2 linked regions of the Homo sapiens genome follow. The protein of the gene in region 2 purifies or fractionates together with the protein of the main gene of each other region. This does not show direct contact. Each region holds a gene or a part of one and is shown on either strand. Other genes may lie near its edges.

Evidence for each region.
Region 1: the proteins of BSDC1 (region 2) and KLC1 purify together in Homo sapiens (affinity purification with western blotting, with the first as the bait; one study listed by BioGRID). This does not show direct contact.

What each region holds. Positions count from the first base shown.
Region 1 is NC_000014.9:103,652,988-103,656,806, reverse strand, and holds part of KLC1 (kinesin light chain 1), read right to left. Parts: intron 2,244-3,819; 5' UTR 2,243-2,243; coding exon 1,982-2,242; intron 1-1,981. UniProt on the Homo sapiens protein: Kinesin is a microtubule-associated force-producing protein that may play a role in organelle transport. The light chain may function in coupling of cargo to the heavy chain or in the modulation of its ATPase activity.
Region 2 is NC_000001.11:32,367,227-32,370,699, reverse strand, and holds part of BSDC1 (BSD domain-containing protein 1), read left to right. Parts: intron 1-1,361; coding exon of another isoform or gene 1,362-1,470; intron 1,471-2,149; coding exon 2,150-2,253; coding exon of another isoform or gene 2,254-2,367; exon of another isoform or gene 2,368-3,473.

The sequences.
Region 1 (3,819 bases), on a different chromosome or scaffold from region 2:
CCTCCTAGGTTTAAAACCTGAAACTCCAGAAGGTGGGACCTTTTCTTCCTTCTTTTTTTAAAACTCTTATCTGCGACACCAAAAAAGCAAGTTTAAATTCATGTCACCTGTTCTCAAGGTAACAGAACTTGAGAAATAATACGTTCACAATATCCAAACAGAGCTACAGTTCTGCAACTCAAGGCTGTAACATGGTTAGGATGAAGACTCTAAAATCAGGGTGTGGGCAGTCACTTCCTCTATGAAAGCAGAAACCGCTGGCCAGCAGCCCCTCTTCTGCTCTATTCACTCACTAAACTAGAGAATGCTAAGAAAGAAGCAAAGCTTTGGTATATTTAATTTTACCTAAGATATGCTGACAGAGCCAGAAGTTATCAGGAGAGAGTATTTAAAAACCTAGATGTTTCCAGTGTTTTCATCTCTATGTCAAGCATGATATTATAGAAACAAAGGTTAGTCAAAGATATGAAGCAATCTGGCCCTGGGATTGCAGAGACCATCACCCACTGGCCAGTGTCCATTCTCCTTCCTTAGGCTTAAGGACCTGCCACTGTAAGTGGGAAGACAACATTCCCCAGTCTCCCACTCACCCAGGTACAGCCATAAGGTCTGGCCAATGCAATGTAAGCACTGCTGTACACATCATCAAAGCAGCAGCCTTCAAGGAAGGAGGCACGTCCTTCCTTTCCCTTCCCCTATGCTAGAACAGGGCCACATGGAGCTCACTCTCAGTCCCCAAGACAGGCTGCCAAGGTGCAGTGTGGCAGATGTTAGGAACCTGAGTATCCCCGATGACTGTGTAGCTACAGAACCCGTCCAGGAGAGTGTACCTCAGTACTTATTTGACAAACATCTTGTGGTTTAAGCCACTGTTTTTGTTTTTTTGATACTGGCAGCCAAATCAAATCCTAAATGATACACAGCAGTATCCACTATTTTGGATCCGCTTTTCAAAATTCAGAGAGGCCCTGAGGTCAGGAGTTCAAGACCAGCCTGGCCAACATTTTAGTTTCTACTAAAAATACAAAAAATTAGCCAGGAATGGTGGTATGTGCCTGTAATCCCAGCTACTTGGGAGGCTGAGGCAGGAGAATCACTTGAACCCGGGGGACAGAGGTTGCAGTGATCTGAGATTGAGCCATTGCACTCCAGCCTGGGCGGCGAGAGCAAACACTGTCTCAAAAAAATAAAAATAAAAATAAAATTCAGAGGCCGGGCATGGTGGCTCGCGCCTGTAATCCCAACACTTTGCTGAGGCAGGTGGATCACGTGAGGTTGGGAGTTCAAGACCAGCCTAACCAACATGGAGAAACCCTGTCTCTACTAAAAATACAAAATTAGCCAGGTGTGGTGGCCCATGCCTGTAATCCCAGCTACTTGGGAGGCTGAGGCAGGAGAATCATTTGAGCCCAGGAGGCAGAGGATGCAGTGAGCCGAGACTGCATCACTGCACTCCAGCCTGGGCAGCAAGAGCAAAACTCCATCTCAATCAATCAATCAATACAATTCTGATAGGCCCAAATCAATAGTAATTTATTAACATACAGAACACATGATCTGTTTTGTTTTGTTTTTTCTTTGAGAAAAAGTCTCGCTCTGTCACCCAGGCTGGAGTGCAGTGATGCAATTTTGGCTCCCTGCAACCTCTGCCTCCCAGGTTCAAGTGATTCTCCTGCCTCAAGCCTGCCTAGTAGCTGGATTACACACGCCAGCCACCAGGCCCGGCTAATTTTTGTATTTTTAGTAGAGTCAGGGTTTCGCTATGTTGGCCAGGCTGGTCTCAAACTCCTGACCTCAAGTGATCCACCTGCCTCAGCCTCCCAAAGTGCTTGGATTACAGGCCTGAGCCACACCGCACTCGGCCTGGATCTGTTATTCTATAATCATCTTTCCTCTTCTTTAGTGAAACTGCTTATTTCAAACAAGTCTCCATTTTACCATCAAAAGTTCCTGATAACGTCTGAGTCATTCTCACTCGTACCTGTGCCTCACTCAGGCCGAGCTCCAACATCTCCAGTGACTTCCGGATCATGTTTGATTTCTCCTCCACCAAATTACTTTCATCATCTTTCTTCAAACACTTCAGTGTCTCCAGCAAACTTTGTAAAATGGAATTGTGCTCATTCTTCAAAGCTTCCAGCCCCTGAATTACTTGCTTTGTCTTAGAAATAATTTCATCCTGTGTAAGCTTCTCCAACTTGTCTTCCTTTATGTACACCATTGTGGACATGTTGTCATACATTCTGGAATGAAAAAAGAAAAAGAAATTAGATCCCTCATTACAGGTTTCATTTCTGTTACATCAAGTAAATATGAAAATTTTTTAATTAACATTTTATAGGGGAATAATAAATATGCACATTTGTAATTTATGACCTTGAAATACCATATTCTGCAGTTTCTGTTTTTCCTTTGCAGACACATTTAATTACTTTTCTGGTTTATGTCTTAATTCTTTTTTATGACAGCAACTGAAATTAATGCCAAAGATTAAAAGCAGCAAAACATCTAAATGGCATTTCCAAAACACATAGCCTCGGTGAACAACATTTTTTCTCAGAATGTTTGCAAGCCTTTTTCTCTTCCTAATGAAATGCAGGAAGAACACTACATTCTTGGTAAAATGTTTAACTGGACAAAGGCTTGAAAAGGAGTCACACAGCTGGAAGAAGAAAGAAAAACCAGCCAAAGAACATGGAACAGGAAGAGCAGCAGGGGAGGAGCAGACCTGGAAGACACAGGGCATCAAGGACAGGTGCAGCACGGTCACCGGGCAGGCTCACAGATGAGGATGGCACAGCGAAGCACCACCAGGGCCAGGCCCAGGGTGATGTGATGCAATGTCTGGAAGGGGCTTTCAAACACCAAAGTGAGAAAGAAAAGGGGGAGGAAAGGGGAATATAAAAACAGCATCATTTGTGCTGTTGTGCCTGACAGCCGCTGTCACTGAGCAATGGTTCCCTCTGCTAGCCTCTCTCCTTTTTTCTAAGTCTTAAAAACCCATAGTTAAGTTTAAAAAACAGAAAGATAGTGAGCAGTGATCTTTTTCGGCACAGTGACAGGGATGGAGGCAAGATTACACGTCAGAGTTATTTCCTTCACAGCACTGCCACTGTCTAAAATCTCACGATTCATTAAGTGTCTAATGTCACCTTGAATATAAGCTCTTATTTAAAAAGGCAGGACAGCCAGGCATGGTGGCTCATTCCTATAATTCCAGCACTTTGGGAGGCCAAGGCAGGCGGATCACTTGATGGCAGGAGTTCAAAACCAGCCGGCCAACACGGCGAAACCCTGTCTCAACTAAAAATACAAAAATTAGGTGAGTGTGCTGGCACACGCCTGTGGTCCCAGCTACTCAGGGGGCTGAGGCACGAGAATCACTTGAGCCCGGGAGGCAGAGGTTGCAGTGAGCCAAGATCTCACTACTGCACTCCAGCCTGGGTGACAGAGCGAGACTCTGCCTAAATAAATAAATAAAAATAAATGAAGTAAAATTAGCTGGGTGGTATGTGCAGGTATTCCTTGCTACCCAGGAGGCTCAGTGAGGCACAAGGATCGCTTGAGTCCAGGAATTTGAGGTGACAGTCAGCTATGATGGTACCTCTGCACTCTAGCCTGGGTGACGGAGCAAGACCCTGTCTCTTTAAAAAATTCCCAAAAAAAGAAAAAAGGCAGGGACTTGATCTTGTAGGACTCCACAGCTTCTAGAGGCAGCTCCTGGCCCAGAAAGTCCATGTAGTGAATGGATGGACTGACAGACGCTGCATGAAGGGAAGAAAAGCTGAATCAGCAGATACAGACTATATATTCCAGGAT
Region 2 (3,473 bases):
CCCGAGTAGCTGGGACTAACAGGCGCTTGCCACCACCCCCAGCTAATTTTTTGTATTTTTAGTAGAGATGGGGTTTCACCACATTAGCCAGGGTGGTCTCGATCTTCTGACCTCGTGATCCACCTGTCTCGGCCTCCCAAAGTGCTGGGATTACAAGCGTGAGCCACCACGCCCGGCGACATGGCTAGATTTGATCCCTGGGCCATAGTTTGCCAACCCCTGGTTTACAGAAAGGGTCTGTGACTATTGAGTGCCAACTATGTGTTCTAAAAACTTGAAATACATAAGAGAACAAAACAAAAGATCCTGGCACTCACAGGGCTTATATTCTAACTCCTCTATTAATATACAATAAACATATTAAGTCTGATTATGTAATATGTTAGAAAGTGATCACTACAATGGGAAAAAGAACAATCCAGAGCCAGGCGCAGTGGCTCACGCCTATAATCCCAGTACTTTGGGAGGTCAAAGCAGGCGGATCACCTAAGGTCAGGAGTTTGAGACCAGCCTGGCCAACATAGTGAAACCCCGTTTCTACTAAAAATACAAAAATTATCCAGGCATGGTGGCATGCCCCTGTAATCTCAGCTACTCAGGAGGCTGAGGCAGGAGAATCACTTGAACCTGCGAGGCAGAGGTTGCAGTGAGCTAGGATCGCGCCACTGCACTCCAGCCTGGGCAACAGAGCGAGACTCCGTCTCAAAAAATAAATAAATAAGTAAAAATACAAAAATTAGCTGGATGTGGTACCAGGCAGGTGCCTGTAATCCCAGCTACTCAGGAGGCTGAGGCAAGAGAATCTCTTGAACCCAGGAGGCGGAGGTTGCAGGGAGCTGAGATCGTGCCACTGCACTCCAGCCTGGGTGACAGAGCGAGACTCTGTCTCAGAAAAAAAAGAACAACTAGAGCAGAGTGAGGGTGATGATGGGTTGCTCTTTAAACTAGGATGGTCAGTGTAGGCCACATCTAGAAGGTACGATTTGAGCAATGGCATGAAGGAGGTGAAAAGTTGGTCTTGTAGATATCTGAGGATACGAGTTCCAGGTGCAGGGAACAGCCCATGCAAAAGCCCTAAGTTGGGAATGCGCCTGGTATGTTTCTGGAGGAACAAGATTAGTGTGGGCAGAATGGAGTGAGGAAGAAGAGGTCTACTGTTTGGGGGTCCGAGGGGAGGTTTTTGTTTTCTTTAGAGACAGGGTTTTGCACTGTCAACAGGCTGGACTGCAGTGGCATGATCATAGCTCACTGCAGCCTTGAACTCCTGGGCTCAAGTGATCACCACACCTCAGCCTCCTGAGTAGCTGGGACTCCTTAGGTGTGTACTACCATGCCTGGCTAATTTTTAAATTTTTTTCTAGAGACAAGGTCTCAGTTCACTGTTGATTTCCTCTGGAAGATTTCTGTGACTCTCTTGGAGCCTCTGGGCCAAAGTGCTTCTCCGCTCTTTAGTAACCTGCCTTTTCCGAGGTAATAGTTTAAGGCTGTTTGGCATGGATGTGAAGTTCTTCTCCAGCCTAACCTCTAACAGCCTACAGTGTTCCACCATGTAACTCACTGTTTACTTGTCTAATTCCCTGTCAGTGGGCTTTCAGATTGTTTCTAGGTTTCCATCACTATGACAGCACTGCAGTGAACACTCTTTGCTAAATTTCTGACTGAATCCAAGATTTTTCCTTAGAATAGATTCTTAAAAGTGGGGGCCAGGTGCGGTGGCTCACACCTATAATCCCAGCACCTTGGGAGGCCGAGGTGGCCAGATCATTGAGGTCAGGAGTTTGAAACCAGCCTGGCCAACATGGTGAAACCCCGTCTCTACTAAAAATACAAAAATTAGCCAGGTGTGTGGGGCGTGCGCCTGTAGTCCCAGCTACTTGGGAGGCTGAGGCAGGAGAATCGCTTGAACCTGGGAAGCAGAGGTTGCAGTGGGCCGGGATCACACCACTGCACTCCAGCCTGGGTGACAGCAAGACTCCATCTAAGAAAACAAAAAAAAAAAGTACGATTGGTGCGCCAGAGTGAACACAAAATGTAAAGACTTGTGTATTTGTGAGACCCTTTTGAAGCATGCTATCTCCCCAGCTACACCCTCTTCAGGTGCCCCTTCCCTGCCTCCTCCTGCTTTTCACACTGTGGCTCGTGGTTCCAGGCTCAAGCACGGACATCAGTGAGGACTGGGAGAAAGACTTTGACTTGGACATGACTGAAGAGGAGGTGCAGATGGCACTTTCCAAAGTGGATGCCTCCGGGGAGGTGAGTGGGCCTGGTGGGTCAGAGGGAAGCGAGCCTAATGGTCCTGGGTGTGAGAGCTCTCCCCAGCCAGCCCAGCTGTCCCCTCAGGAGGGTCCCTGCTCCTGTCTGAGGTGACAGGTGGTGGGAAAGGAGCTGGAGCTTCCTGCTCAGACCCACAACATTGGTCATCAGCAGGCTGCACTTTTCCTCAGTTCCAGGGTGGATAGAGGGTCAAGTTCTTGACCTTAGCTCTGTATCAAAATTGCCTGAGAAACTGCTTAAGAAAACAGATGTCATGCTGAGCGCGGTGGCTCACACCTGTAATCCCAACACTTTGGGAGGCCAAGGTGGGAGGATTGCTTGAGGCGAGGAGTTCAAGACCAGCCTGGCCAATATAGTGAGACCCCATTTCTGTTTTTGAAAAAAAAAAAAAAAGGAAAAAAGAAAACAGACATCAAACCCTGCCTGACCTTCTGAGTTGTGGTCCTCAGGTATGAGGCCTGAGTATATACTTGGCCTTGGAGACAAAAGACCAGTGTGATCAAGGGCAAGGGCAAGTTACTTAACCTGAGCCCCTGGTTCCTCATCTAAAACATGGAATTGATCATTATAAGACCTGGCTATAAGCTGTAATGAGGTGATCCATGTAGACACCTTAGGGCTATTGCCTGAGACATGGTGACCAGCACTCAGGAGACATTAGTGATAAACCCCACAAAACCCATTCCAGTTATTAAGCTCAAGGAGGCCTTAGTACTGTTATTCTTCACTACCTCTCAGAATCAAAAGTGGCTCATTTAGATTGAGAGGCTGGAACAGTCCAAAGCTCTCCCAGCTAATAAGTGACAGGACTGAGGCTGCAACCCAGACATCTGATTCATGTCAGCGTTAGTTCCACTGTCACATAAGAACCACATGAGTCCTTCCATCATGTAACTTATGAGCCTGTTAGAAAGAGGTGGACAGATTAGAGAGACATGTGAAGGGCCTCCTTTTTCATGATGGGAAACTGAAGCCTTGGGGGAGTATTTTACCTACTCAGGAGTATTTTGCACTTGTGACTACCTCACTATACCCAGGACAGAGAAAGCCCATAGTGCCCTGTCAGGCCACAGGGGCTTGCTGGCTTTTTGTGTCTTTGCAGCCCCCTTTAAAACCTGACGTGCAGTACACGTGAGCATTCTAGAACCTGCTATACCAGGGCTTAGCCGACAGCAGGCCAAGAGTAGGAACAAAGCAAG